Homo sapiens: one gene and its partners. The protein of the gene in region 3 purifies or fractionates together with the protein of the main gene of each other region. This does not show direct contact. Each region holds a gene or a part of one and is shown on either strand. Other genes may lie near its edges. The genes, in order: PLOD2, NUDT16L1, HNRNPH2 and HNRNPA3.

Evidence for each region.
Region 1: the proteins of HNRNPH2 (region 3) and PLOD2 purify together in Homo sapiens (affinity purification with mass spectrometry; 2 studies listed by BioGRID and IntAct, with this or other methods). This does not show direct contact.
Region 2: the proteins of HNRNPH2 (region 3) and NUDT16L1 purify together in Homo sapiens (co-immunoprecipitation; 2 studies listed by BioGRID and IntAct, with this or other methods). This does not show direct contact.
Region 4: the proteins of HNRNPH2 (region 3) and HNRNPA3 purify together in Homo sapiens (affinity purification with mass spectrometry; 2 studies listed by BioGRID and IntAct, with this or other methods). This does not show direct contact.

The regions. Positions count from the first base shown.
Region 1 is NC_000003.12:146,157,517-146,166,167, reverse strand, and holds the start of PLOD2 (procollagen-lysine,2-oxoglutarate 5-dioxygenase 2 isoform 1 precursor), read left to right. Parts: upstream 1-4,983; 5' UTR 4,984-5,178; coding exon 5,179-5,287; intron 5,288-8,651. UniProt on the Homo sapiens protein: Forms hydroxylysine residues in -Xaa-Lys-Gly- sequences in collagens. These hydroxylysines serve as sites of attachment for carbohydrate units and are essential for the stability of the intermolecular collagen cross-links.
Region 2 is NC_000016.10:4,688,065-4,696,749, reverse strand, and holds NUDT16L1 (tudor-interacting repair regulator protein), read right to left. Parts: upstream 3,189-8,685; 5' UTR 3,066-3,188; coding exon of another isoform or gene 3,024-3,065; coding exon 2,871-3,023; intron 2,773-2,870; coding exon 2,512-2,772; coding exon of another isoform or gene 2,182-2,511; exon of another isoform or gene 1,793-2,181; coding exon 1,571-1,792; 3' UTR 906-1,570; downstream 1-905. Other genes in the region: E3 ubiquitin-protein ligase MGRN1, read right to left, coding at 7,842-7,954. UniProt on the Homo sapiens protein: Key regulator of TP53BP1 required to stabilize TP53BP1 and regulate its recruitment to chromatin.
Region 3 is NC_000023.11:101,410,514-101,415,023, forward strand, and holds the end of HNRNPH2 (heterogeneous nuclear ribonucleoprotein H2), read left to right. Parts: intron 1-1,422; coding exon of another isoform or gene 1,423-1,475; coding exon 1,476-2,825; 3' UTR 2,826-3,620; downstream 3,621-4,510. Other genes in the region: RPL36A-HNRNPH2 protein, read left to right, coding at 1,423-1,479. UniProt on the Homo sapiens protein: This protein is a component of the heterogeneous nuclear ribonucleoprotein (hnRNP) complexes which provide the substrate for the processing events that pre-mRNAs undergo before becoming functional, translatable mRNAs in the cytoplasm. Binds poly(RG).
Region 4 is NC_000002.12:177,207,740-177,216,427, reverse strand, and holds the start of HNRNPA3 (heterogeneous nuclear ribonucleoprotein A3), read right to left. Parts: upstream 3,635-8,688; 5' UTR 3,629-3,634; coding exon 3,557-3,628; intron 890-3,556; coding exon 767-889; intron 679-766; coding exon 532-678; intron 451-531; coding exon 240-450; intron 1-239. UniProt on the Homo sapiens protein: Plays a role in cytoplasmic trafficking of RNA. Binds to the cis-acting response element, A2RE. May be involved in pre-mRNA splicing.

The DNA of each region.
Region 1 (8,651 bases), on a different chromosome or scaffold from region 3:
AAAGGACGTTCAGCCTTGAAAAAGTCACCTGGTAAATCATTCCTGTCAAATTACAGCTTAAAGAATTAAAAGGGAAAACTGCTGGGGCCCACGGACTATACTGCAAACCTCTCATATATAAAGGGGAGCTTCAGATTTGTGGCAACTTGATCATCCTAAAATTAGAGAGGTCATCCCCTGACATCTGCAGCAGAGACCTGATTTAGAATGAAGAGTCACAGCACAAAAGTTCTGCTTCATGGTATTCTCTAAGCCCTCATCTCCAGTTTATATCTTATATTCACTGTAGTTTCTACTCCCATCTAAGTTCTGATCTTAAACTTGTGTTTCCCAATGCTATAATCAATGACCTCTCTGAGGCTTCCTCCTATTCCCCAGTCTCTCTTCTGTAATACTTTTCCTATTTATCTGACTTTAACAGTCTCCTTTGCTGATTTCTTTTTTCCTCTTTCCTCAAAAGGGTCCGCCCTCTCTGAGTTTCAGCTCTTGGATGTCTGGTGGTTTTTCTTTGTCCTCTAATTCATTTAACATCCCCCTTCCTCTGTACCTCCAGGGTTATTCCGCGAATTCCCAAAGCTTTACTTCTTATTCACTCCACAAATATTCATTGAATAAATATTCGTTGACTCCTTTTTCTCTCCTACGCCCACATTCAGACATCAAATTTTGTTGACTCTACATTCAAATCTATCTGGAAATTGACCTTCATTTACTGCTACTGACTTGCTTAAAGCCTCCGTCATCTCTCTCCTGGACCACTGCATTAGCTTTCAAGTTGGTCTACAGGTCTACAGACTTTCTGTTTTATTTCTCCACTCACTCTCCCTTATCTTCCTCTAATGTGGCAGCTGTGGACTCTGTGATCCTTTTTAAATCCTACTTCAGATCATGTCACTGCTCTGCTTAGAACCATCCAAATGGCTTTTCAATTCATCCAGGGTAAAGGACAAAGCTGTTACTAGGTTCTACCCTTATCACACTGTCTGTTTATCTGCTTGCCTCCGCCCTGCTTGTTACCTTCTCAGGCTTCATCTCCTACTATTCTTATGCACAGTCACTGAACATTCAATTGCCCTCTTGCTTCCTCACAACACTCCAGGTATTTCTGGTCTCACAGTCCTTGCACTTCCTGTTTCTTCTGCCTGGAACACAGGTCCCCTGTACATCCTGGCCCCCTCTTTTTCTCACCACTTTCAGGTCTTTGCTCAAGAATCGTCTTCTCAGTGGGGCTTTCCCAGGATCCCTTACTAAGGTTTTGGTATACCTCCCCTCCTTATTGGTCCTTCCCAGTTACCTTTCCTGATTTACTTTCTCTCTACCACTTATTACCTTATATGTTTATCTCTGTTTCACCTGAAACTAAAGCACAGTAGATTTTTGTTTTTTCTGTCACTAATAAATTTGTTTTTACCAATATCTATCTAGAACAATGCCTGAGATATAGTAGTCATGGAATATTTTTTGAATGAATCAATGAATAAACAAATGTGCTACTATGGTACTTACTCTTTGATGATGAAAAATAATTGAATCCTGACCTTAACAGACACACTGTCTAATAATAATTCTAAGAAAAGACCCTGTCACAAATGAGAGAGGTTTGCTTCAGAAGTTAGAAATCATGGAACAGGGACATCTAAACCCATCCTGAGGTAGGGTAAGTTACCCCAGTTGGGCTTCCTGTAGGAGGTGGCACTTGAGCTTGACAGACATTAGCCCAATGAAGGAAGGAGGACAGGTTTTGTCATCCTTTTTTTTTTTAGATATAGGGATAACATGAACAAAGGTATGGTTGCTGAGCAAATGCTGCTTCTCTCATTTCTCCTCAAATTTCCTTACCATTTCTGAGCATGTCACCCTGACTTCTTATGATCAAGAGTTACATCATCAGAGTGGCTGCTACCATAGCAGGTTGGGAATGCCTGGGAATTAATGAGTGTCCCTCAGCCCTTAAGTCAATGACTGATAGGTGTTGGGAATATATATCCCAGTTCTCTGACCCATTGACCAGGATATTTTTGAGTGATATATAGTACATCAATTTTGTGGGATTAAGCTCCCATTACCCACTGTGGTTGATTTAATTGGATATTTTCCCTTTCCTGTGTCATTTTAGCTTCACCTATCTGGTTTTCTCAAAACTCTCCACAAACCGCTAGTCACTGAATTTGGGCTCATGCTTGGGCTTCAGAGGAACCCAAATGATTCCTACCTAAACTTTAGAGAATTAAAGTGACAAAGTATTTGGTCTGCTTTAGGAGATAATAAAGCAAACTACGTTGGTTGGGTTTAGTTTGGCATGAAGGAATCTGAATACTAGGTTAGGGAATGTGGATTGTTTCCAAATCTGTTATGAAATCTGTTTGGGGATGAAGCAATCAAAAGGATATCTGAGTATGATTAATCTAGTTGTGGTATATAGTGGTATTACACTGGTGGTAGGGAAAGTCTACAGGAAATGGCATAGGATACACTCAAGAGTGCATTAGTTAGTGAGGTAGCAGTGAGAATGGAAAGGAATAGATGAAGAGAGAACATGAAGGGAAAAAATGACAAGATTTGGAGTCCGGCTCTGTGAGTTGGCGGGTGTGGGGGATGGAAAGAGAGAAGTAAAAATGTCTGAGGCCATATGAGTTAGAGAGCAGTAGTATCAACAGAGATGAGGGAGCCGAGTGGGATCTGGATTTGATGAGTTAAAAGACATATCAGGCCGGGCTTGGTGGCTCACGCCTGTAATCCCAACACTTTGGGAGGCCGAGGCGGGCGGATCACGAGGTCAGGAGATCGAGACCATCCTGGCTAACACGGTGAAACCCCGTTTCGACTAAAAATACAAAAAAAAAAAAAAAAAATTAGCCGGGCCTGGTGGCGAGCGCCTGTAGTCCCAGCTACTCAGGAGGCTGAGGCAGGAGAATGGTGTGAACCCGGGAGGCGGAGGGAGCTTGCAGTGAGGGGATATCGCACCACCGCACTCTAGCCTAGGCAAAAGAGCGAGACTGTCTCAAAAAAAAAAAAAAAAGACATATCGAGTTTTTGCCAATGGAACATCCAAGTAGAAATGTTCAGCAGATGGCTGGAAATGTAAGAAAGCAGGAAGGATTTGGTTTGAGAATTGGGGCTCTTTCAGACTGTTAGAAATGTCTAGGTATTTGAAAATCCCAACACTTGCTTTATACGAGTCTCACAGCACAGATGTTGTGACTCTTAACAGAGAAGGAAGAATGTCAAAATAACCTGAAATTATTAGTGGACTTTTGGAGTTTAAACACACACACACACCTGTGATGCAGAGAAGCCGGTAAGCATTCATGAGGGGAACGGGGGTTTGGGAGGGCAGGAAGCCAGGTTGTAGCTCTCCAAGTTCTTAAAGATACTGGAGAACCAAGGAAGCAAGAAGTCAAGTTCAAGGAGTTTGGCAATTGCAGGTTTGGCTTTCTGGAGACAGATCTGGCCAAAACACCAGCCATTCCTAGCAGAGTCCTTGGACTCAGAGGACTGATGCTGTTTGCTTTGTGCCTAGTTTTATGAAGCTGTACTTGCCACACATGAAAGGCTGTTATTAAGGAATCCATCTTTTAGCTTTTTTTTTCCCCTTCAGACTAAATAAACCTTATTTCATTCTTCTCACAGGTCATAGTTTCCACTTCTTTAATTATTTGTTACTCTTCTCAGAACTTTCTCCAGTTTTCCTCTTCTTTTAAAAAACTGAGACCAAACCTTCAAAACAGAGTAATAACTGGCTTAGTTCTGGGCACAGGAAATGATTCTTTCTAAAATGTCACATCCCAGGCAAGATTTCTTTGCAGGGTTTTCCACCTGTTTTTAATGCTATCAAGATGAAAGCATTAAGTTCATGTTATCTTGATATGTTAATTTTAGACAAAACGTGATCATAATGGAACACATTTTTCCATAATTTTCTGTCTTAATTTCAAAGGCCCAGAGTTATAACGGGTGTTGTCTCGATTCTGTTTTTTTCTAATTTCACGAAAATTTAGGCAGGAGATTCCAGAATGGTAGCAGTTTGGTTCTCTTTCTCCTATAAAATAGCTTATGTCATTAAATGTATGAGGCAAAACTGTCAAGCTTTTTTCTTAATTGTGCTTTTGCTCCCACTCATTCCAACAAGTTAAACCCTTGGCTAGTTAAAATGTGAGAACAGAAAAAAGGGAATTTTCTTAGACATCAGTCAAAAGTGGAAGCAGTGGGGGCCAAGGCTCAGAGATCTCGACCTCTCCGACCACGTCTTTGGGAGTAATTTTCCATGCGGACTGGAGCACGATCTTGTAAGCACAGCCCCGGCATTACACACGTTGGGCTCCGATTCCGCAGGATTTACAAGCCTCATTACTGGAAAGAGTCTAAGGCTCTCTTGGCACAAGCGGCGGAGCAAGAAATGTTCACTGGACAATAAAACTTTCGGTTTACGGAGTAAAATAAAATCACGGCCTTCCTTTTACAGGGTGATGAACCTGCCCCTGAATTAATGAGGGGCGATCCATTTCCATGGCTTAAGAGTCTGGCGAGGTCCCAGTCAGCCAAGATTGCCGCAGATTTGCAGTCACTTCAGACTGGGTGGAGTATCCAAGTCCATAGAAGAGCAAATTCTCACCCTTCGAGGCTGCTGTGGAAGCTACCGGGGCTGGGACAGCAGAGAGGAACCCAGACGGGAACACCGCCCTCCCGCCAGACTCCCGGCGGCTCCTCCTCCCTCTCCCAAACCCACTCCCAAAGCTAAGTGCAGGCTTCCCCGTTCCAGCCAGAAGCGCTGCGTGAGCCTCCACACGTAGCCGCAGGCAGCTCCTTAAATAGCGTCCGCGCTGAGCAAACAGTCCAGACGTGGGGCCCAGGAGGGCGAGCTGAGGCGACCGCACCGGGCGCGCAGCGGCGGCGGGTCAGCCGGCGGCCAATAGCCAGGGCGCGGCCCGCCCCGTCGCCTCCCCTCGGGGAGCCTATAAGGCCTCCGCAGCGCCCCGGGCGCCTGCTGCTCCGTGCCTCCACCGACGACCTCACTCAGCTGCGTTACGCGCCGCTCCGGCTGCCGGCCGCGCGCCTTGCCCGCCGGCTCCCGCCCGCAATCGGCGGCTCAGGGCGGACCCGGGTCTCTGCGTTCTCGCGAGAAGCGCGGCGCTGCGGGGCCGTGGGCGCCTGAGCCCGCGCGGCCCTCGAGGGCCGAATATGGGGGGATGCACGGTGAAGCCTCAGCTGCTGCTCCTGGCGCTCGTCCTCCACCCCTGGAATCCCTGTCTGGGTGCGGACTCGGAGAAGCCCTCGAGCATCCCCACAGGTGAGCACCCCGCGGTCCGCCGCTGTCCCGCGAGGCTCGGCCGGCGGGGGGGCAGTTCATTCATCCACCAGCCCTTCCGCGGGGCTGGCCAGGTGAGTAGTGGGGGCCTGTCCCTCCTCTCCAGGACCGCCGGGGTCTTCCCCAGAATTGCGGTCGGGCGGCGCTGGTCCCTGGGGAAGTGTAGGGGCACCCGCCCTCGTTGACTCCTTGGAGTTCTCGGTGAACTCAGCGTGCCCGAATTTCCCTGCAGAACAAGTTGGAGTTTCCTTTTGGACTTGCAGGTCATGGGCACCAACACCTTTCCTGCAGCTCTCCTTTCCCCTCCTTTCCGAGAGTTGGCATGGATTTATCCTTGATGGACGAGGCAGTACTCCTTCTGTGACCTAAACACGGGGCTTAGTGTACTTTCTAATTGATGGTGACACATTCCTTCCAGCACCCCAGGAAGCAGCCGGTAACACCTCCCTCTTGCCAAAAACAACGCTCGCTCGAAAACCTTAGTTGTTTTCAGTAAGGCTGCCTGGCTACCCAGTACCTCCAGGCGGCAGCTTTCTTCCTTTGGGATCTGAAGGGGAAGCTGTGGACACACAGCTGCTCCCCTTACCTACCCTTTTCTTGAGCCCGGTGCTGTCTCTCGTTTTCAGAAGCTGTGTAAAACAAAACGTTTTATATTTAGCCAGATTAAAGAGAGTTTCACCACGTCTGTCTAAACATGCTTTGCTGCCTTTTGTGGCACATGAAAAATCCTTGGAGTTTTCCACATTTGTGCTCTTTGTGCTCAACTCTCTGAAATTAGATCTTGCATTTAAATGACCTTCTAATGTCCTTTTTGTTTTGTTTTGTTTTTTGTTAAGTCATCTTGGCACCATTTTTTCCCCCAAGTTTATAATAGAGTGCTTTTCTACTTGAACTTTTCTTAAGCCTAAGGACAGAAATTTCTATTTCAGAGTTACATTCAGAAAGTGACATTTGGTTTGCAGTCCAGCTAATCCATGTAGCGATAGTTTTGTCTTCATCTTTAAGTGTTTCAGAAAGCGTCAGCAGGCTGAACTGCCTATCTTTCTACAAAACAGTGCTTGCTTTGTTAGCTTGAGAAACTTCAGCATTCAGATGGATTTCTATCAGTTACAGGATGCTTTTCTTTCTGTTAGGTATATGTGACCATTTAAAAATGGATTTCTGAACCCGTGTGATTCCTCTAAATTTGAACTAAACTTTTGCATAATTTAAAAATATTTCTTCTAACATAATATCTGGAAAGTAGAAAGTAAATACTTTCAGCAAATTTGGAAGTAGAGAAATTTAAAAAGGAAAAACAGAACAAAAAGCCTTCCCCAGAAAAATGTCTTTCTTTGTTGAAACACCCAAGGAGACTTTAACTGGGAAATAAAATAACCTCTAAGGACTTTGTAATATTTAGAGAGGCCTCTTTGGCCTTTGTATATTTTATTCCACTTCATTGCCAACACCCCTAACTTTTTAATAGAGGACATCCCTTTGTATCTGCCTTTATATTTATAGTCAAAATCAAATTCCCTTCTCACTCTGGATTTTAAATTTCATGGAACTGGACAGTAAACTTTTAATGGATTGTGATATCAGAGAAAGAGAATTTTAGGTATGAAAGTTTCCTCAGGAAACGACCACATGAAACCCACTGTTTAAATCTGAGGACTGGTCACTTGGTAAGCAGGCATGGAGAATTCGGTTAGGGTCGAAATGTGGGAAAATACTAATTTGTGATAGGTGAAGCCAGCAGTAGTCAGTTTGATTACAAATTTCGGTGTAGGTAGGTGTTCTCATAGGTTATGTGATAAACTAATAAATGTAGAGGTAAACTGCTTGATAAAGTGGGCAGAATCATGGACTGTGGTCTATTTTATTCTTTACAAGTTTCAACTGAAAATTACTAAATAGAAGCTTATTCGTTGACATAAATATCAAGATCTTCTATAGGACCCTAAATTGTCTAGCTTAATAGTTCTTTAAGAAGAGTGCTTATCATCTCTAACCCTGTATATTTGTCAACATGTCCCAGCTAACCAAGAAGAAATGGTTTAAATCACAATTTCTTGGCCCTATTGACATTTTGAGCCAGACACTTCTTTGCTTTGAGGGACTATCCTGTGCATTGATGTTTAGCAGTATCCTTAACCTCTGTGCACTAGATGCCAGTAGTATAACCTTTCTAATCTGAGCACCAAAAAAACAAAAAAGGCCTAATGTCCCCAGAGGGACAAAATTGCCCAGGGTTAAGAATCCCTGGATTAGACTAATCTATTTGTATTTGAGGCAATATGGCATTATAGTGTTACTGGAATGATAACAGCAAATTATTTTTGAAAACAAATATTTATAGTGATTTTCAGTTTACCCACTGTAGTTGGGAATGTGATACACATTCATCAATTTTTGGAGTGTAGTTTTTCCTAGCTCTGGTGCTTTGTTGACCAGAGTTGAGAACATAGATTTTTGTTAAATTTTTGAGAGTTCTGTGTGCTGTATTGATTCCTTTTGGTTGCCACTTTATTCTTAGCATGGAAAGACTAAATAAGATTTTGGCTAAAATAATCATTTTCTCTGAAAATAACGTATAGGAATTGTTACCTGAAAATTATATCCTTATGGGAGCTTTCAGAGGCAGAACCTTCTTAATCAGTGCCAGTAAATCAGGTTCATACCCTGATTTATCTTTCCTGCCCTTTCTGCCTTCTAGATGGGATAAGGAGAAGGTGGATGTATTCCTGCCAAGTCTTTGCCGTCATGTCTCCAGACCTGGATAAAATTTGTGTGTGTTTTCTGAGGCACCTTACTATTCTATGATCCAAACTGGGCAGAAACCAAGTTTTGGGCAAAAACAAAGGAAATGGTTTCAAATGTTTCTGTCAAGACCAGTATTTTTGTACCACATTCATTCATTTATAAACTCTCTAATTTACTGTGGTACATTCAAGGAAAAAAGGAAAGGTTTGTCCCTATCTACTGATGCAAACCAGCAATTTATGGGGTGGAGAGGAAAAGAGCAAGGGCCTGGAGAAACCTCTGGAAGAGAGAGGGTCTTGTCCTCTGTACTTTCTGTATTCTGTGCTTCAGCCACACAGAATGACATATCATCCATAAACAGACTGTGCCTTTTATTTCACATGACAACAGACATATAAAACTACTATAGAGAATGTGAAGACAAGAAATGAAAATTAAATTGAGCTACCCTTTTCTATCCAACACATGGGACAAAGCATCTTAAAATAAACTCTGATTGTACCAAATGTCAGGATGGGAATTGACCGTTGATGGAAGCACAGTGTCTTTGGAGAACAATTTAATAATATCTACTGGAATTGAGAATCCGCATGTCCTGTAA
Region 2 (8,685 bases), on a different chromosome or scaffold from region 3:
GGGGCTGCGGCCCTGGCTCGGCAGCTCGGGCCAGCACTGAGGCGGGACGAGGGCCTCACCCAGAACCTCGTGGTGAGGCCCAGAGTTCATGGGCTGCCCTGGCCCATACCAGGCAGGGCCCTGGGGGGAAAGTGTATCCATATACACGCACAGGTGCCAACTGAGGTGGGACCTTAGGAATGAGGACTGGGGCACCTGGAAAATGCCATTTTTTGGAAAATAAAATTTAAGAACAGCTAGTGAAGGGCTCAGTTCTGGTCACATGACATGAGGCACTGGCCAATGCAGCAACCCTGACTGCCCTGTCCTCTGCTGTTCAGGGGTGTGTCTTTTGCTCCTGGAGCCCAGACAACTCAAGATAAGGCTTTGAGAGCCAAGAACATCCCCAGCCCGCCGTAGCACAGGGCCTCCCCCGGGACATGCTGCTCTCACACCGAGCTCTGAGATGGAGCTGGGCACACTGCCTCCCTCACCGGGCCAGGCATGGGCTGTGCAAATTTTCTGACGATGCCGCTGGAGTCTTTCCAGATGTGGGGCTGTAGGAGACCACGAGGGATGGCTCTGCTGCTGTCCTTCTGCACAGTAAGCCTGCACTTCTACACCATCCCCTGGAGCTGCTTGCAGACAGTGGGGAATGGTGGGTTTGCAAAGCAAAGCAGGTCAGCCCAGGTGCAGCCAGGGCCACCAGGATCAGGAAGGGGAGCCTGCCCTGAAGGTCTCGGCCCAGACGCCCCAACCTGGCTGATGGGCACAGCATTCATGCTGGGAGTGCCCCCAGTAAACACTGGGGAACAAACGTGCCCCTGGCTGGGGCAGCTCCTCCCTCCCCCACCTAGGGCAGGGGGCCTGAGCTGGTTCCATCCAGAACCAAAACAAACACACAGGGCAGCTGAGAAACACACAGAGCAGCTGCGGAGCGACTTTATTGTCTTCTCCTTCGACAGCTTCGTTGTACATAGCTGGGCCCCCGAGGCCCTGACTGTCCCTGGGAACCAAGCCACGTGGGGTGAAGCTACTTTGAAACCTCACCCACAGTTCACACGTGGTGAAAGAGAAAATCTAGCAAAGTAAATCCAACAACAACCCAAATTAACAGTATTATTAACTTCCTACCCCAAGCTGGCTCTCCCCCAGGCCCTGAACTGGCTCAGGAAGGAGGCAGGAATGAGCTGACCGAGACAAGGCATCCTCCACCCACACATCCCATCTTCTGAGTGGTCCCAGAGCTGTGCGCCACCCCTGTGGGACAATCAGGCACTCCTGGGTCTCTACCAGCTGTGATGAGACGTACAAGAGGAGGGTCTGAGCCCAGAATAAACAAGAGCATCCTGAGGCTGGAGAGGCAGGCCCAGTGTGCCCGGACCACCCTGCTCTGCCTGAGAGGATGGGCTGGGTTCCAGCTGGCCCGGCCGCCACCTAGTGACTGCTTGGGACAGTGGAGATGATGACAGGATGCCCACTCGCCCTAGGCAGTCAGAAGCGGGGTACACACAAACACTCTAGAAGCCACACTTAGCAGGAATTCCCAGTCTTCCGGCCCAGGGGAGGGTGCCACCAGCTCAGGCAGCCCTCAAGAGGAGGCCGGGAGCAACTTCTCCAGGGCCTTCTTCTGCTTCTCGGTGGCTGCAGCCAGGGCCTCAACCAGCTTCTCCTCGGGCATCATGTTGAGCACCTTGAGGGCAAAGAGGAGCTGGCACTTAGCCGTGCTCACGAAGGCGTTGCTCAGGAAGTTGGGGAAGCCTCCGACTCGGTCCTTCTGGGTGTACAGCGGGACCCGCACGAGGCCCAGCACCTGCGCAGACAGGAGGTAGGGGTTGGGGCCAGGCCTGCCACACAATGGCACCTCCAGCAGGAGGGGCCTGGAAGCTATGAGGCCAGGGTATGAGCAGCCAGCTTTGCCAAGGACTTAATGGGAGACCCACGCAGGGCCTGGCAGAAGCCAGCCAGCTCCCTCGGAGCAGTGCAGCCCCCTCCTCCCCAAGCAAGTGTGGAGGCTGACCCCATGCACTCCCCCCCCTCGTACCCAGGCCACCCCACCCCGGGGTCCGCACCCCATGCTCCCCCCGTCCACCCAACGAAGCCTGAACACCCGCAGTCCAGCCCTTCCAGACCACAAAGTACAAATCCCAAGAGCCTTCACGCCCAACATGAGGTTCCCAAGTTTTACAACCCCCGCTGTGCTCAAGTTTCCCAACTCCCCAAGCAATCCCCGCTCCTCCCCCATCCCTTCCTCCCCACCGATCCCACTCCCCCACTCCCAGGATTGGCAATGGCAGGCAGCAAGGCGGATGTAACACAGCCCTGAGGGAGCCCCAGCGCCGGCCCCCACCCCCGCCCCTCCTTTCCCGGCCTCCCAGCCCCAGACCCCTCTCCCCACCCCATTGCTGGAGACAGCGACACCCGACCCAGCCCGGCCAGGGGACCCTCAGGAGACGTGTTACCCATCGGTGCCTTCCACGGGGCCAGAGCCAAACCCCGGGGCGGGGGGCGGGGCCCGGGCGGCGGCCCCACCTCCAGGCCGTGGTCGCGCGAGTGCACCGCGCTGATCTCCACGGCGTGCAGCTGCTCCAGCGTCAGCTGCCGCGCGTACAGGTGCGCCACGACGCGGTGTGGGCCCTCGGTCAGGTGCGAGCTCAGGTAGTCGGCCTCGGTGAGGCGCAGGCAGCCCAGGCCCAGGCCCAGCACCCGGTTCAGGCCGTCCTCCAGCGACCAGAAGCGCCGGTCCACGAAGCCCCCGGGGAAGCCCAGCAGCCCGTCGAAACGCATCTGCATCTGCAAGGGAGCGCGGGTCACAGCCGCGGGGTCGACGGACGCCCCCGCCCGGGCCCGCCCGCGCCGGCACCCTCGCCCGCGCCCTCGCCCGTCCTCACCAGCACCGAGAAGCGCATGGGGATGCGGCCGAAGAGCTGCCCAGGGTTGGCGGCGTACAGCATGGCGTGGCACGAGTGGCTCCAGCCCGGCCCTAGGCGCATCGCCTCCACCCGGCTGATCTGCTTCAGCTCCGGAACCGCCGCCGTCGACATCTTGGCACTGACCCCGTCCCCGCCGCTGCCACTTAAGAGCATGCGCGAGCCCGCCCCCGCCGTGCCTCGCCAATCCGCGGGCGGCCGCGCCCCCGGGTCCGGTTCCCCCGCCAATCGCCGGCGCGCCCCGGGACCGAGCCCCTCGCAGCGCCGCGGTGCGTCGTCGAGAGGTGCTGCGGGCGGTGTGCAAAGGAGGGCGGTGCGCGTCAGCCGTCACCCAATAGTCGCACACCCTGGGCGGCGGCCCCGCCTCCGACGGGAGAGCCTAGACGACTGGTCGGTGCCGTGGTGGCTCAAGGTTGACATTGTGGGCGACGAACATCTTCCTTGGCGCCCCAAAGCGGACAGCCGAAATTCCCTGCGGTTTCTCCACCCTCGATGGCGCCGATCCCCTTGCGCCCACCCGTTTCTCCCCAGGAGGCCGACCCGGCCCGCATGGCCCCGTCCATCCGCAATGGCACCCTTGGCACGACCACACGAGCCAGAGATGCCCCGGAGCCTTGCTCCGCCAGCGCCACCGGACCCAAGCCCGGAGGGAGATGGCCTTCGCCTGCCATGCACGACAGCTGTCCCGACCTAGCCACCCTGCTGGCAGGCTCGATCCAGGACAGCACGGGGAGCAGGGCTTGGCAGGGCTTGAGTGCCCCAGTCCCCGAGTCCACGCTGGGTCAGGGCGGACGACCGGGAGCTCTGGGGCTCTGTGGACCCAGCTTGCTGGGCAGAAAGTGACTTAAATTCCGGGGCTGGACCTTTCCAGCATCCTCCAAGCCGGGCACCCTGTGCCAGGTACTGTGGGGGGAAGAGGGGTTTCCCCAATTTACGATGAGGAACTTGGAGCTCAGAGAGGGACATAACTTGCCTAAGTACAACTGGCAGTTGATGACAGAGGCAGAATCCCGATTCCACAAGGGCCTGAGGTACTTACCACTTACCTTGTGTTTGTACTGGAGATGTCTCTGGGGCTCAGAAGCATCCGAAACAGCCCAAGGCAGAGCGAGGTGCCCTGAACTCCATGATGGCAAGGCTCACCTCACCAGCAGCAGGGCCCAGGGCCACTTTCCTCCCCACCAGGGGAATGGATTTGCTGAGCACATGAACCCCCCTGCCTGCACTCACAGCATGGGTGCCCAGGGCTGGGGCACAGCCTCGGGAGAGCCGTGCAGTGAGGCCGAGCTCGCTGGCACAGAGAAGGCTGCCTTCAGTGGAGGCAGGCAGGAGAAGAGAGAGGGAGAGGGTGGGCATTGGAAACTCACCTGTTAGGTCCGTGGTGGCCTCAGATGTGGAGAATAAGGACCCAGAGAGGGCACCTCTCTCTCCTCCTGTGGCCACCAGTGGGTCAGGGGTCACATGGGACAGCTGCAAGCAGCAGGGGAAGTCCAGATTCCAGAGTGAGCGACCATGTGAGAAGGCGAGAGGGCAGCGAGGGGAAGGGTCCTCTCACCCAAAGAGGGCCCCACCCCTAGGCAGCCAAGCCCAGCCAGCGCCCAGGGCCCGTGGGACGCAGGGGCAGAGGAGGAGAGGCTCCCCTTGCTGCAGCCCCTCCCCGAGACCAGACATCAATACAAGCGCTGGCTCTTCTGGGAGGTACAGAGGGGGAGCCCATCTGGCCCATGCAAGCACCCGTCTGACACCCTGGGCACCCCTCTACCCACACTGGGATGGGGCCAGACCCAGGCAGGTCAGAGCAGCTGCAGGGCCCATGGGTGGCAGCCTTCTCGGGGCAGGGACTGATGGGCTAGAACACGGGCTTTCCCTCCACCCTCACAGTCTTCAAAGAAGGGCCATGGTGGCAGCTTGACCTGCACGCAAAGGAGCTGGGGCCCTGAGTGGTAGGCAGTGGTGTGGTGGGTGCCCTGGGGCACTGGCCACTCCCTGGGCAGGGGAGCGGGGGCTGTGCAGAGGCCTGGGGCCGGGCTCCAGCCTGCGAGCCCACAACCATGGGCAGCTAGACCTGCTCCCACCGTCCGGCCTCCACACGCCAGCCGCAGGGTGCTAGCACTGCTTCTCCGCTTGGAAGCCTGTTTTTAAAACTGACTCCCCCTTATAAAAACACTCCAGCAGCCCCTACAAGCTCTTCAGTATCTATCCAGCACCCTTCACTCCAGCCAGGGGCTCCGTCCCCAGGGGACACATCAGGCTCACTCCTGCCACCTGGAACACTCTTCCAGGGCCAGCTCCTCCTCAGCCCTCAGGGCTGTTTAAGTCTCCTCAGAGAGGCCCTCCCTGCCACCCGGTTAAATGAGACCTTGTACGGGTTCATCTCACCACCATGCTGACTTTCTTCCTAATAGTAACCAAACCTGGCAGGATTCTGATTAGCTGCTGGGCATCTCACTGCCTGGAAGGCAGGCGCCCGGGGCCAGGGCCGGGGCCTCAGCTCTTCTGCCTCCACTGACGCACAGCAGGTGCTCAGCAAATGCCTTGAGATGATCAGGACTAGAGATGGGGACCGGAGCGACTACTCACAAACCTGGAGGCCCTGGGCTCCCCAACCACCTGTTCACGAGAGAGCCCAATCTGGAGGGTGTGGCTTCCCTCCAACCAGACAACTAGCCCTGACAGGGATGGCTGGGAGCTGCCCGTTCTCGTTAGCCCTCACCTTGCTCACTGCCCTGACCCCAGAGGGAAGCCAGGCAGAGGCCGTGGAGCTGCCACGGTGCGGGAGCCACCGCCAACCACCCAGCGGCAAAACTCCGGGTCAGGAAACAGCCACAATCCTGAGGGCTGCACCCGGAGGAAGGAGCAGACAGGATATTGCTGCATGATTTTATTACTATAAATATACAGTAAAAACGAACCAACGATGAGCCCATCTGAGCACATCAGACGGCAGCACATGGGAGTCCCAGCGGGCCACTCTGCGGCCCGAACTTCACGCAAAGCTCTGGCACCAGGACTGATGGCCAGAGGCTGGGGCCTTGGTGGGGGCGGGGGGCGGGCGGTGCAGGGGGCTGTGTGTGTTGTTGGGGAGAGGTGCATGGGGGGAGAGAGGTGCTTGGGGTGGGGTAGAGGTGCGTGGGAGATGCTCGGTCCGAGTGCACACACATGCATGGGAACATGTGCAGGAGTATGTGCGTGTGTGTATGCGTGACAGCATGTGTGAGCGTGAGTGTGCATGTGTGAACATGTGCGTGAGCATGTGCAAGTGGGCGTGCATTTGTGTGTGTGTACGTGTGAGCGCATCTGCGTGCCTGTGCACGAGCGGGAGGGGTGGCTGGCCTGGGTGTGCAGGGAGCTGGGTGTGAGGACCATGCTGTCCACTGCTGGGTCTCGCCCAGGAGGCGGACCTCATGCTCGGAGCCACCGTGAGCCTCAGGGAGGGTACTGAGCTGCCCCACAGCCGACCTGTCCCCAGGCCCAGCTGCAGGGCAGCCCTCCAGAGCCAGGTGAGCAGCAGACACCTGCCTGGCCCAGGGCTCCGCAGGGGTGGATCCAGCCCTGGGTCACCAGGCCCAGGCACTCCCTTTGCCATCTGCGGCCCAGGAGGTTTACCTTTAAAAAAACAAACAAACAAACAAAAAAAACAGGACGAGGTCGCCCAGAGGCCAAGCCTCCCGGCCGGGACCCCATTCCCCAGGTGTGCTGCTGGCTTCCTCCTCCCTGGGCCAGTCCTGCCACAGAAGCCTGAGACAGAACAAACCAAATCAGAGAGAACTGCAAGGGGGCCGGGCGCGGAGGCTCACGCCTGTAATCTCAGCACTCTGGGAGGCCGAGGCAGGTGGATGACCTTAGGAGTTTGAGACCAGCCCGGCCAACATGGTGAAATCCCTTCTCTACTAAAAATACAAAAAAATTAGCCGAGCATGCTGGTAGGCACCTGTAATCCCCAGCTACTCAGGAGCCTAAGGCAGGACGATCACTTGAACCCGGGAGGCGGAGGTTGCAGTGACCCGAGATTGAGCCACTGCACTCCAGCCTGGGCAGCAAGAGTGAAACTCCATCTCAAAAAAAAAAAAAAAGAGAAGAGAACTGCAAGGGGACATTCCAATGGCAAAAGAGAATGAGGAGGCCACCAGGTCCTCCCTGGCAGGGGCCTGCCAAACAGAAGCCCCTGCACCTGGAGGGGCCTTGTGATGTCACCAAAGCCAGCACCAGGAGGAGGTGTGGAGCTTGGTGACAAGGCCACTGAATGCTGGCTGCTGGAAGCAGCTGTGCCTCCGCCCCTCGGCCAGGCCCAGCACCGGGCTGAGACACTCTAGCTGCCCAGGGCGGCACCCATGCACCCCAAGGCCCCGAGCACTGAGGGCCCCAGCGCAGACGCACCAGGGAGGGCACTGAGGCCGCGCAAACACGGCAGAGGACAAAAAGCAGCGACAGCCAGGCCGCCACAGTGACACGCAGGGTGGGTGGACAGGCACTGTTTCCTTCATTGACCGTGCCTGGAGCCCCCCACTGCCCCTGAACATCTGTGAAGATGGTGCTTCGACCACCAATCAGTTCTCTTCTGCAGGCCTCCTGAGTTCTCCGGGCAGGGACCGCACTGTTGCAGGAGCAGGCAGAGCCAGCGGAGGCCACACGTGGGCAGCCCCAGCCCCAGCCGCTCAGCCCACAGGACCCTGGGGAACGGGGGCTCTGAACTAGGGATGGAAAGCTGCTGTCCTTCATCTTGTACCAGTTACAAATATATCAACTGTAGAAAAGGGAGACTCAGAAGGGACAGTTCACTGTGCTCTTTGATCAAGAGTCACCACGGCCCCTCGGAGCCTGGTGGCCACAGGGGGCATGCAGACAGGAGGCCGGCTCACAACGGGGTCCGGAGCAGCCCCTCGGCAAAGTCTGGGGAGCCGAGGGCTCCATGCTGCCAGCTCGGCCAGGCTCTCAGAGTGGGGTCAGCTCGGCGGCGCTGGGATCGGGGCTGGGGCCACCAAGTGGAGGCCAGGTGGGGCTGGTGGTGGCGAGGCCGTGGGCCGTCTCCATGGAGGTGGGCCGTCCTGCAGGTGGGAGCAGAGGGAGGAGGGTCACACTCGGATGCCTGGTGCCACGCCACCCGCTCCTACCGATCTGGAGCCCCAGAGGGGCTGGGCCATCCAGCACCCCCACTCCCGCCGCCTGTGGCCACAACAGCATTCACTCAGATGTGAGCACACCAAGGGCCCGGGGACTCCCTAACTGTGCCAAATACGCTGTGTCCCTCTTGGGACAGACGATCCCAGATCCCCGGACACCCACAGCAGATCTGCAGCCCCGAGTCAGAGCGCGACACGGCACCGCGGTGGATGCCCTCTGGGCCTCCTGCCCTTGCCCTGGTTCCGGTTTCCTGGGATGTGGCCAGCCACTGTCCTGCCAAGGTTCTTACGGCTGGGTTAGGGTGGAACTCGGTCAACCCAGGGTGCAGGGGTGGGGAGCGGCCCTGGGTGAGAACAAGCCCGTGCTCAGAGTAGCCCCCGGATGGCTACTGCAAGGCAAAGAGAGGAGCCTCCCACAGAGCCCCAATGCCCAGACTGTGGCCTGCACGACGCCGCCGGGCGCTGTCCCCAGATGGGTCTGGCGTCCCTGGGGCTTGGGCAATGGTGCTGGTGCAGAGCCTGGGACGGGGCCAGCATGGCCTCAGGGCTGCCTGACACCCAGCCACCAGCCCTGACACATGGCTCCCAGCAGACACGGCCCAGGCCCCACTCTCCGGTGAAGGGCGTCTATTTTCTTCGGGGGCCGCGGCGAGAGC
Region 3 (4,510 bases):
CCTATACCTGTATTCTCTCATACTTAATCTGTTATCAAGTCCCGCAGATTCCACTTTTTTTGGTATGTGTAGATACATCTTTTCTCCATTTTACTCCTGTTGCCTTAGGCGATTCCTTTAACATATATTTATGAGACAAGTTCTAACTAATCTCCCTAGTTCCACGTCGACCCCCTTCTGTTTGAGTGCCACGCTGTTGCCAGGGTGATCTGTCTGAAAGAGTTTTGGTGAAGTCACCCTACATACTCCCCGGTTTAAAAGTCTTAAAAGGCGCTTAGTGTTTGTATATCAAAGTCTTTGGGATCTGATCTATGCCTTGCCAGTCTTTTCACTTGCTTTTCCCTCTCCTATTTGTGCTTCATCATAATTAAGAAAAAAAAATGTTTATGGATCCCTGGGCAGATTAGTCTGTTTCATTTAACCATTTGGCCTCCAACCAATAGAACTGATCAACTAGTCCCTCTTTGATACTATGCTTACACTCCACTCAGAGGGTCATGGCAAGTATAATGTATATTTGCATTTACATCTTTAATAATGACATTCGGTGCTCCTGTAGGACCATAAGCCCATTCTGGGCTTATTGATTCTTGTATGCCAGAGCCGAATATTGGACATGGCAACTAAAAAATGTTTCTAAAATGAATGTGTGAATTCCCAATAATGTCTTTTTTTCATTTATCTCTGGAGCCCAAATATTTCCCTGATTTTATTGATTTGCATACATTTTTATATAATGAAGATATTATATAAAGAACTTACATAACCTGTGTTTTGTTTGTGTTTTAATTGTTGTTTAATCTTTTGATCTAGTGAAGTTTTTTATGTTTATATATTCAGATATAGCCATCTTTTATTTGTTGACATCTCCCACTGATTTGTTGCTGTTAATTTTTTTTTTTTTTTTTTTTTTTTTTTTGAGACGGAGTTTTGCTCTGGTCGCTGAGGCTGGAGTGCAGTGGCGTGATCTTGGCTCACCTCCACCTCCTGGGTACATAAAAGCGATTTTCCTGCCTCAGCCTCCCGAGTAGCTGGGATTACAGGCACCTGCCACCACGCCCAGCCAATTTTTTGTATTTTTAGTAGAGACGGGGTTTCACCATGTTGACCAGGCTGGTCTCGAACTGCTGACCTCAGGTGATACACCCACCTCAGCCTCCCAAAGTGCTGGGATTACAGGCGTGAGCCACCGCACCCGGCCGATTGCTGTTAATTTTTAATGGTATCTAACACGTAATAGGCATTGAATAAATAACTGCTAAAAAATGAATGAGTTAAAAATTTGGTGAACTCTCTGTTTATACAGACGTCTTACAGAAAAGCTGTCAGCATAATTGAATTTTCTATTAATAGTTTGCTTTTTTCTCTTACTATATCACGAGCATTTTTCCATGACAGTAGTCTTCTTTTTTTTTTTTTCAGCTACACCAAAATTGCATTGAGCCAAACTTGCCACCAAGAGCCCAACAATCACCATGATGCTGAGCACGGAAGGCAGGGAGGGGTTCGTGGTGAAGGTCAGGGGCCTACCCTGGTCCTGCTCAGCCGATGAAGTGATGCGCTTCTTCTCTGATTGCAAGATCCAAAATGGCACATCAGGTATTCGTTTCATCTACACCAGAGAAGGCAGACCAAGTGGTGAAGCATTTGTTGAACTTGAATCTGAAGAGGAAGTGAAATTGGCTTTGAAGAAGGACAGAGAAACCATGGGACACAGATACGTTGAAGTATTCAAGTCTAACAGTGTTGAAATGGATTGGGTGTTGAAGCATACAGGTCCGAATAGCCCTGATACTGCCAACGATGGCTTCGTCCGGCTTAGAGGACTCCCATTTGGCTGTAGCAAGGAAGAGATTGTTCAGTTCTTTTCAGGGTTGGAAATTGTGCCAAATGGGATGACACTGCCAGTGGACTTTCAGGGGCGAAGCACAGGGGAAGCCTTTGTGCAGTTTGCTTCACAGGAGATAGCTGAGAAGGCCTTAAAGAAACACAAGGAAAGAATAGGGCACAGGTACATTGAGATCTTCAAGAGTAGCCGAGCTGAAGTTCGAACCCACTATGATCCCCCTCGAAAGCTCATGGCTATGCAGCGGCCAGGTCCCTATGATAGGCCGGGGGCTGGCAGAGGGTATAATAGCATTGGCAGAGGAGCTGGGTTTGAAAGGATGAGGCGTGGTGCCTATGGTGGAGGGTATGGAGGCTATGATGACTATGGTGGCTATAATGATGGATATGGCTTTGGGTCTGATAGATTTGGAAGAGACCTCAATTACTGTTTTTCAGGAATGTCTGATCATAGATACGGAGATGGTGGGTCCAGTTTCCAGAGCACCACAGGGCACTGTGTACACATGAGGGGGTTACCTTACAGAGCCACTGAGAATGATATTTATAATTTCTTCTCACCTCTTAATCCCATGAGAGTACATATTGAAATTGGACCCGATGGCAGAGTTACCGGTGAGGCAGATGTTGAATTTGCTACTCATGAAGATGCTGTGGCAGCTATGGCAAAAGACAAAGCTAATATGCAACACAGATATGTGGAGCTCTTCTTAAATTCTACTGCAGGAACAAGTGGGGGTGCTTACGATCACAGCTATGTAGAACTTTTTTTGAATTCTACAGCAGGGGCAAGTGGTGGCGCTTATGGTAGCCAAATGATGGGAGGGATGGGCTTATCCAACCAGTCTAGTTATGGAGGTCCTGCTAGCCAGCAGCTGAGTGGTGGTTATGGAGGTGGTTATGGTGGTCAGAGCAGTATGAGTGGATATGACCAAGTTCTGCAGGAAAACTCCAGTGACTATCAGTCAAACCTTGCTTAGGTAGAGAAGGAGCACTAAATAGCTACTCCAGATATAAAAGCTGTACATTTGTGGGAGTTGAATAGAATGGGAGGGATGTTTAGTATATCCAGTATGATTGGTAAATGGGAAATATAATTGATTCTGATCACTCTTGGTCAGCTTCTCTTTCTTTATCTTTCTTTCTCCTTTTTTAAGAAAACGAGTTAAGTTTAACAGTTTTGCATTACAGGCTTGTGATTCATGCTTACTGTAAAGTGGAAGTTGAGATTATTTTAAAACTTCAAGCTCAGTAATTTTGAACACTGAAACATTCATCTAGGACATAATAACAAAGTTCAGTATTGACCATAACTGTTAAAACAATTTTTAGCTTTCCTCAAGTTAGTTATGTTGTAGGAGTGTACCTAAGCAGTAAGCGTATTTAGGTTAATGCAGTTTCACTTATGTTAAATGTTGCTCTTATACCACAAATACATTGAAAACTTCGGATGCATGTTGAGAAACATGCCTTTCTGTAAAACTCAAATATAGGAGCTGTGTCTACGATTCAAAGTGAAAACATTTGGCATGTTTGTTAATTCTAGCTTTTTGGTTTAATATCCTGTAAGGCACGTGAGTGTACACTTTTTTTTTTTTTAAGGATACGGGACAATTTTAAGATGTAATACCAATACTTTAGAAGTTTGGTCGTGTCGTTTGTATGAAAATCTGAGGCTTTGGTTTAAATCTTTCCTTGTATTGTGATTTCCATTTAGATGTATTGTACTAAGTGAAACTTGTTAAATAAATCTTCCTTTTAAAAACTGGAAAAAATCTTGAACTGATTGATTTTTATTATGTTCTGTCATATGGGCACACTGATTGACTTTACAATTCCCTCAAAGTTAAGATTTTTAATTTTAAAATTATAAATGATATTTAGCATCTTTATATGTTCATTGTTGCATATATCATTAATTATTTCTAAGATATATCCCTAGAAATGGGATTGCTGAGTCAAAGATATACTCATTTTTAAGGCTTCTGATTTGTGTTACCAGAAAGATTCTGGTACTTTATCTTTCTACTTGGAGTGTGTGTTTTATTTTCCCCCTTATACCCTCCTTATTGATGCACATTATTCTTTTTGAACTTTGCCAGTTTTTTAGTTGAGAAATGATATCTCATTGCTATTTTAATTTGTATTTTTTTGATTAATATTAAAGTTGTACATTCTTTTTTAAAAAAAACTTACCATGTCTACAGGACTATTGAGCTACTTTTGGAGACTGTACTTACCAAGATAGTATTCTCTAAAATCCAAAGAAGTGAAAGCAAATAAATAATCCTTTTTATTTCACCACAAACTAGAAGGCACGTTTGTATGTTTAAAAAGAAGTAGGCTTACAATTATGTGTTAAAAACAAAACATAAAAAAGAAGCAGGTTTATGTTATGGAAATAAATTGTCTCCTCCATGAATTCATTAGTAGATTCTCTATAAACACTCTCAGGTGTATTTTAGGGCATCTAAAGCTTATCTTAAACCAGCGGTTCTCAAACATTCATGTGCATCAGAATCATCTGCAGGGGTTGTTTAAACATTCATTTCTAGGCCCCATCCCTAGAGTTTCCAATTCAGTAGTTTTGGGATGTTGCTTGAGAATGTGCTGATGCTGCTGGTCTCAAGACCACGTTTTGAGACCCATCACAGTTCCCCAAACA
Region 4 (8,688 bases), on a different chromosome or scaffold from region 3:
TCATTATGTAACCCATTAAGACATAATCAGGTAGTGACTCTGGTAATGAAGGAGCATTCTGAGATGTTTATGTTTATTTCTTGATCTGGATACTGATTACACAGGCAGACACTATGAAAATTGACTATACACTATAAATGCCATTACACGCAACAGAAAATTACAATTTAGCAAATTTAGTTCAAAACAGAAAAACCAGTTCTACTTTCTCATTCAAGTTACCATAAATTGCTACTTACCAACAATTTTATCAACTGTATCATGATCATCAAAAGTTACAAAAGCAAATCCTCTCTTTTTTCCACTCTGCCTGTCTTCCATAACTTCTATGGTTTCAATCTTGCCATACTTTTCAAAGTAGTCTCTCAAATTATATTCTTCTGTATCTTCTTTAATACCACCAACAAAAATTTTCTTCACTGTTAGATGGGCACCAGGCTTTACAGAATCCTACAAATAAAGTAATATATTAAGTCAAGAAACAAACTTTCACAACAATTTCACATATTACACAATGTATTATTAAAATACCTCTCTAGAAACAGCTCTCTTTGGTTCCACTACACGCCCATCAACCTTGTGTGGTCGAGCACACATTGCTGCATCCACCTCTTCAACACAAGAATAAGTCACAAAACCAAAGCCCCTGGAACGTTTTGTTTGGGGGTCTCTCATTACCTACAAAATAAAAAGTTTTATAACGTTGAAAACACCTCCACCGGTTCTCTACACCCCTTAGAACCCTTCTGTTCTCTTAGTAACTTACCACACAATCTGTGAGTGTGCCCCATTTCTCAAAATGTTCTCGTAAACTATCATCTGTAGTTTCAAAGCTCAGACCACCAATAAACAGTTTTCTCAACTGCTCTGGTTCCTTTGGATCATGGCCCTGAGAGAAAGAACCAATACTCTTAAGTTACCTTACAGTAGATGAATTAAGATGCACGAAGAGCCTTTAATGTACGGTAAGTAATAAAATCAACATCAAATTCCTGTGACAGTTAACACTTTGTCCAGTTAAAACTTTGACCAGACACCGGCGCGATGTCTCATGCCTGTAATCCCAACACTTTGGGAGGCCGAGGCAGATGGATTACCTGAGGTCAGGAGTTCGAGACCAGCCTGGCCAACACGGCGAAACCCCATCTCTACTAAAAACACAAAAATTAGCTGGGCGTGGTGGCGGGCGTCTGTAATCCCAGCTACTCGAGAAAGGAAAATCGCTTAAACCCAGGAGGCGGAGGTTGCGGTGAGCCAAGATCATGTCATTACACTCCAGCCTGGGCCATAGGAGCGAAAACTCCGTCTCAAAAAAACAAAACAACAAAAACTTTGACCAGAAATAAGACTTCAACTGTTAAAGGGGCTAACTTATGTCAAGGAAACCTATAACCAGCCTTTCAAATGCCAGCATCACTTCAACTAAATTGAAATCCAAGACAATTCCAGAATCAAAAAATCGCTTCATTTTTTAAAAGCTACAACTGTCTGAGAACCTTTACTTTAGAAGTTGCTAGTAAGTCATTTTCTAAGGCACTAAACTGTTGGAGAAGCAGTGTTGCATCTATCCCATTTCAACTCTTCTCAGTCTACAACCCAACATGCATTTAATTTTTTTGTTTGTTTTGTTTTTGAGACTGAGTCTCGCTCTGTCGCCCAGGCTAGAGTGCAGTGGCGCGATCTCGGCTCACTGCAACCTCCGCCTCCCGGGTTCACGCCATTTTCCTGCCTCAGCCTCCCGAGTAGCTGGGACTACGGGCGCCCGCCACCGCGCCCAGCTAACTTTTTGTATTTTTAGTAGAGACGGGGTTTCACCGTGTTAGCCAGAATGGTCTCGATCTCCTGACCTCGTGATCCGCCCGCCTCGGCCTCCCAAAGTGCTAGAATTACAGGCGTGAGCCACAGCGCCCGGCCCATACATTTAAACTCAAAACTGTGATGAAGAACAATCTAAAAGTTCTGAATGTCAAACTTACAGAAACTCACTGCTTTCAAGCAAATTAATTTAAAACAGGCATTCCTAAGCCAAACCAGCATTTCCCAAAAAAACTGAGGAAAAAAAAAAGCCGATCAAATAGCTTTCTATAACCCATGTTTGTTATATGCTGCAAAAATCTGCAATTTACAACTCAATTTTAAGAGTCACAACTAACTGGCAAGTTGGACTTACATTAGGAATGGTATGTATTGTCTGACTATAAGAACGGAGTACAGCAAAACAAAAATTGAGATTTTTAAGAATTAAGATGTCTTGAAATTGTTTTATACTTTAGTCAAGACTTTTTAACACATTGCATGAACTGTCATTTAATGCATGCATTAAGGTTTCCTTCACCCGAAGTTCTTAAATAAGGGGCTCACATTTACATTCTAATGTCTTCCTGTGTCTCCTAGAGGTAGAGATGTTAAACCGTTTAATGTGAAGAGATTGTCACATGCTAGAAAAAAACGTTAATAGCCTAAAGCATTAATTCATGTAATCTCATCTTTTCAAGTCTTGGATAAATGTATTCGATTGACAATAACGAAATCGACAAAAATATTTAGGATCCACATTAAATGTACTGCAAAAACGTGAAAATTTCAACTCTGGTTGCAGTCCTCTAAATAAAATTCCAGGAAACTACAACCAGAGCCGACTCAAAGAATGGGAAAACATGAAGATAAAAAACATTTCTAAATTCTTCCTTAACATACTATACTCAAATTCTTCTCCACCCACCCTCCTCAGCGGCCGGAGCCGGGAAGGAGCTGGCTGGGTTGTTTTTCACATCTACACTCAAATTCTCAAAAATTAAGTCCTTCGCCCACATGGCGGTTTAAGAAGTGTAATGTAAGTACTTTAGCAAAAATATATCAGGAAGTATTTTAAAGCAGCAAAGTTTTTAACAATCTCGTATTTCCAACAGGATGCTGCGAAAAAAAGAAAAGGCCAATTATCGACTTCTCGCGGAGAGGACCCGTAAAAGGCCTAGAAAAGCGTCGGCAGAACTTCAGCGAAAGCACTACCTCCCCATGCTTCGAGGCCATTTGCGGCTTTTTCTGCCGGGCCGCCTCCGCCCTCTTCCCTCCAATCCCAGGCTCGCTTTCCCGGCGGCAGAGCGAGGCGGCGGCCATTGCGGGCCAATGCGCCATTTCGTAACGCGGCGGCGGATCAATGTCAATGTGGCCGCCGCCCGCTTGCTCGCTCGCCCGGATGTGCCTGCTCGTCCCCTCCCCTCCCCCACCACCTCCTCCCAACCGCTCCCGCCGGGGCCCGCCATGCCGCCCTCGGCCTCGCTTCGGAGGCCGCGCAGCCGGCAGGCCGGCTTCCCTCCCGAGGCCTCCCCGACCAAGCCGCGCCTCCAAGGGGCCGCCTGTGCAGCCGAAGGTGAAGGCGAGGCGGGCGAGGGGCCCCAAGGAGGTCTCCAACTCTCGCTCCCCTCCCCCTCCCACAGCCTGTCTCAACGCAAGAGCGCGGGACGGCCGACCCGGTCCACCCGGCCTCCCCGCTCCCACCGAACCAGGCCCCCAACGCCGGCCATTCCCCACCAACCCCCCGCTCTCCCCCTAATACCTCCTCCCCCCGGCGGCGACGGCGACGGCCGGAGTCGGGCTGGGGGCGACCGGGCGGCGGTTTTACCTCCATTTTGAGACCGGACTCGCCTCTTCCAACTCGAGTTCAATATGGGACCGAGAGGAAGAGGCGGGGCCAGTCGTCACGTGACGCGTTTTCCGCGCGCCGCCAGTCTGTTGGGGGAGGAGCGAATTGGGAAGGGGGCGGAGCCAAGCGGGCGCGAAGAGGGACTGGACCAGCGGGTTGGCGGGCGGAGGGCGGAGGCGCGGCGTGCCGCGGGAGCGCGCGCGCCTCGCCAGCTTTCAGGGGAAGAGGGCCTTTGCCGCCGTTCGCGTCAGGGCGAGTTCCGGGACGTCAGTGCGGTCTCCGCCAATGGTGAGCGTCCACGTAGAGGGAACGCCTTGTGATCGCGCGTCACCAGAGAGAAAGGCCTTTCCCTTTCTTCTCGCGCTTGTCCCTCATTCCCCACGCAGGCCTCTAGTTCTCCATTTCAGAATTCATTCTATTCCTGTGCCCGAAATAAAACCCACGTTTTTCTTGCTTGTAATTTAAAGGTTGCAAGAAAAACTCCTCGGCCCCTCGGACCATCTTTCCTGTTTCCAAATGCCGGGGACCAGTGTCTGTGACTGCGCCGCCTGCCTGAGGGCATGTACTGAAAAGCCCTGCGACTCCAACATGTGGGACTCACAAGCACCTTGGACAGGCCTCAAAACGCGGCTGACATACAGAATTTTTACCATTAACGACCTGAGGCAGGACTGGTGGAGGTCAGTTCATTAGTTACTGATCTCAAGAAACAAGTCAGGACTATTTTCTAATGTGCTTCTTTCAAGTTAGTGTGGAAAGAGCTGATGCATCTGTTGTAGCTGACGGAATTTAAGGAACTGAATAATTGACAAGATTTCCAGAAAAGCAGGGTCGCCAGATAATGCTACCTGTTTGCGAATGATTGTTACCGTAATGCTCTAGAGAGCTAATCCTTTCTCGGCCTAGTCAGATGATTTTAAATCATTTGATTTTACAGAGCTTTAGTTTCAGTTTTTTAAATGAAAATGGGGATGGGATTAGGTCATCTTCTAACACCCACGACAGCCATAAATTGATAATCTATGGATCCATATTTAAAGTTACTGATAAAAATAACCACAATTGACCAGCCTCCCTTCCCTGTTAGGAAATGCTTTATATTTTAATTTAGCAACCCATGTGACCAACCCTTTTAGAATTGAACTGGCTCTCCCTAGGAAAGGTTAGAAATCTAATCAGTTATAGTAAGTTTCTGTTAACAAATGGGGAGTGGTCGACTTGGAGTTTGGAAAAGGGGAGCGTAAAGTCTAAAAGTTTGTTAATTTATCTAGCCGTTGCTCCAGGAGGACCTGTGTTATAGTTTGGAAACATTTACAAAGGGTATTTTTGTGGGGCAGAAAACAGTTAGCAGTCCTTAATGTAATTTGGTTGAAATAACCGTTCAAACCAGACTCCTCCTGTTGCTTTGATTCCTTTTTCGCAAACTTTCTTATGTTCTACGTATCCAGGTGCTCCTGATGGCCAGCAATAGACTTGAGACATTGGAAGAATGTATAGCCTTAGCGTCTATTTAGTGTTAAGATTTTGTAAGTCTAATTACTGTGAAATAGTCCTGGTAACTTTATCGATTCTGGATACAAAGAAAAATGCAAAGTGAAAGACCTTTGGAAATTGCTATTCACACCAGAGTACTCTATGAGACATTACATAGGTGATCAAGAAGAGTGATCACCTGGCTGCACTTTAGGGTATGTTTGTCCAGGTTTTTCTAATAAGTTAATTCTAATCAATAACTTTTGTTCTAATTAGTAACTTTTGTATAAATGTTAATGTTAAATCGCGAAACAATGTGGGATGGGATACTAAGTTCTCTCCAGGAACATGAAATGTCAGCCCATTTATTCACATCTTTTTGTCCTCCCTATTGTATTGGTCCAGATTTGTTGTTCATCCTGACTGTATGCTGTTTTTAGACATTAGTTATTTTTTATGCTTTTGTCTAAACAAGCTCTGGCCGGGCGCCATGGCTCACACCTGTAATCCCAGGCCTTTGGGAGGCCGAGGTAGGCAGGTCACCTGAGGTGGAGAGTTTGAGACCAGCTTGACCAACACGGTTAAACCCTGTCTCTACTTTTAAAAAAAATACAAAAATTAGCCGGGCATGGAGGCACACGTCAGTAATCCCAGCTGCTTGGGAGGCTGTGGCACGAGAATCACTTGAACTCAAGAGGCGGAGGTTGCAGTGAGCTGAAATTGCCCCACTGCACTCCAGTCTGGGTGACAGAGCGAGATTCCGCCTCAAAAAAAAAAAAAAAAAAAAAAAAGGCCGGGCGCGGTGGCTCACGCCTGTAATCCCAGCACTTTGGGAGGCCGAGGCGGGCGGATCACGAGGTCAGGAGATCGAGACCATCCTGGCTAACATGGTGAAACCCCGTCTCTACTAAGAATACAAAAAAAAAAAAAAATTAGCCGGGCGTGATGGCGGGCGCCTGTAGTCCCAGCTGCTGGGAAGGCTGAAGCAGGAGAATGGCGTGAACCCGGGAGGCGGAGCTTGCAGTGAGCCGAGATCACGCTGCTGGCTGGGCGCAGTGGTTCAAGCCTGTAATCCCAGTACTTTGGACGGCCAAGGCGGGCGGATCACCTGAGGTCAAGAGTTCGAGACCAGCCTGGCCAACATGGTGAAACCCTGTCTCTACTCAAAATACAAAATTGGTCGGGTGTGGTGGTGGGTGCCTGTAGTCCCAGCTACTCAGGAGGCTGAGGCTGGAGAATCGCTTGAACCTGGGAAGCGGAGGTTGCAGTGAGCTGAGATCGTGCCATTGCACTCCAGCCTGGGTGACAGAGCGAGACTCCATCTCAAAAAATAAATAAATAAATAAACTTAAGGTCCAGTTATGTCTCAGGTACAAAAACCACTTTTCCAGTCCTTGACCCTGTAGGGCACAGACTTGAACCTTGGCTATGGTCTGCACTTGCAGCCCTGACTCTTTGATATGAGAAAGGGAGTGTATGGGATGGGAGGAGGGAATGAGGGTCCTAGGGTGAGATGGGTGGCAGACAAACTTTATAATCTATATCAGGCCCTCTCCTTTATATCATGACATACAGAAAATAATCATTTTTGTACAGCATAGTAGGGTAAACTAGAAGATATTTGGAGGCATCTAAGTGGTGGTAATGTTTTAAGCATCTGATTTTGATAAAATACAAAGTATTAGGAATGATATTAAATATTGAATTTGCATAAAACTTTCAAATTAAAATTTTCCGTGTTTTTTAGTGATCAACTTGAACTTGTTCCTGTGAATACATTTTGATATTAGGTTTTATGGTTGAAGTGGCTTTATGCAGTTTCTGATCTAGACTTTTTTTTTCTTGAGACAGAGTCTCACTCTGTCACCCGGGCTAGAGTGCAGTGGCATGATCTCGGCTCACTGCAACCTACCACTCCTGGGTTCAAACAATTCTCATGCCTCAGCCACCCAAGTAGCTGGGATTACAGGCCCATGCTACCATGCCCGGCTAATTTTGTTTTTGTTTTTGTTTTGAGACAGAGTCTCTTGCTCTGTCGCCCACGCTGGAGTGCAGTGGCGTGATCTCTGCTCACTGCAACCCCTGCCTCCTGAGTTCAAGCTATTCTCCTGCCTTAGCCTCTCAAGTAGTAAGGACTACAGGCGTGCATCACCACGCCTGGCTAATTTTTGTATTTTTAGTGGAGACAGGGTTTCACCATGTTGGCTGGGTTAGTCTGGAATTCCTGATCTTAAGAGATCCGCCCGCCTTGGCCTCCCAAGGTGCTGGGATTATAGGCGTGAGCCACTGTGCCTGGCTGGAAGAAGGTAACTCATTTTGTTTGTTTTTGAGACAGAGTCTCGCTCTGTCACCAGGCTGGAGTGCAGTGGCACAATCTCGGCTCACTGCAACCTCCGCCTCCCGGGTTCAAGTGATTCTCCTGCCTTAGCCTCTCAAGTAGCTGGGACTACAGGCGCTCACCACCACACCTGGCTAATTTTTTGTATTTTTAGTAGAGACGGGGTTTCACCACGTCAGCCAGGATGGTCTCCATCTCTTGACCTTGTGATCCACCCGCCTCGGCCTCCCAAAGTGCTGGGATTACAGGCATGAGGGAAGAAGGTAACCCTTAAAAGGGAGGAATTGTAATAAACTATAAGCTTTGTTATGTGCCATTATATTCAGAATATACCAAAGCTTTATTTTCTAAAATCTTGATTTTTAAATAAGGAGTTTATAAAGTAAAACACACACAAAAAGTCTTTCCCCACAAAATCCTATTACATAGATTTGACCATGATCAACAACTTATTACATATCCTCTCACATTTTCTTGTTGGCCTAATCAATGCTTATATATATGAAACAAACATATTTGTTTTATTTTTACCAATGTATGTCTAACTATCCAGATTGATTTGAAATTTCCTTTCTCTTCCACTTAACAAAGTTATTTACCAAACTCTTACTATGTGCCAGGCAATGCTAGGTGCTGGAAATTCATCATAGTCACTCACATTATTGAATACTACTGTATACCTTGTAATGGGCCACGTACATTATGTTCCTGATTTCATTCCCTTAATAAACTTAGGAGGGTAAATTCTCCCTAATCTGGGATGTAGGAAAGTTGAATACATTGACTAAAATTATATAGGCCCTGCAAGTAAAGTGCTGAATTAGAATGTCATATAATCACTGTATTTACATTTTAATATTCTTGAAGGTAACAACCTTTTCTTTAAAAATCTATCATACATTTGTGTTGTTCACTATGTTTCTTATGTTTCCAGAGACCACTACAGTGATTGGCTCTGTAGTAGGCAATTCACTTATTTATGGAATATTCAACATTAGATATATGAATCATGGATGACATATTTTGGGTCCCCTTCAGTGCCCTGTTGGACCTTGATATGGTTTGGCTCTTTGTTTCCATCCAAATCTCACCTTGAATTGTAATCCCTGTAATCCCCACATGTCAAGGATGGGACCAGGTTGAGGTAATTGAATCATGGGGGTGGTTTCTCCCATGCTGTTCTCATGATAATTAGTGAGTCTCGGGAGATCTGATGGTTTTATAAGCATCTGGC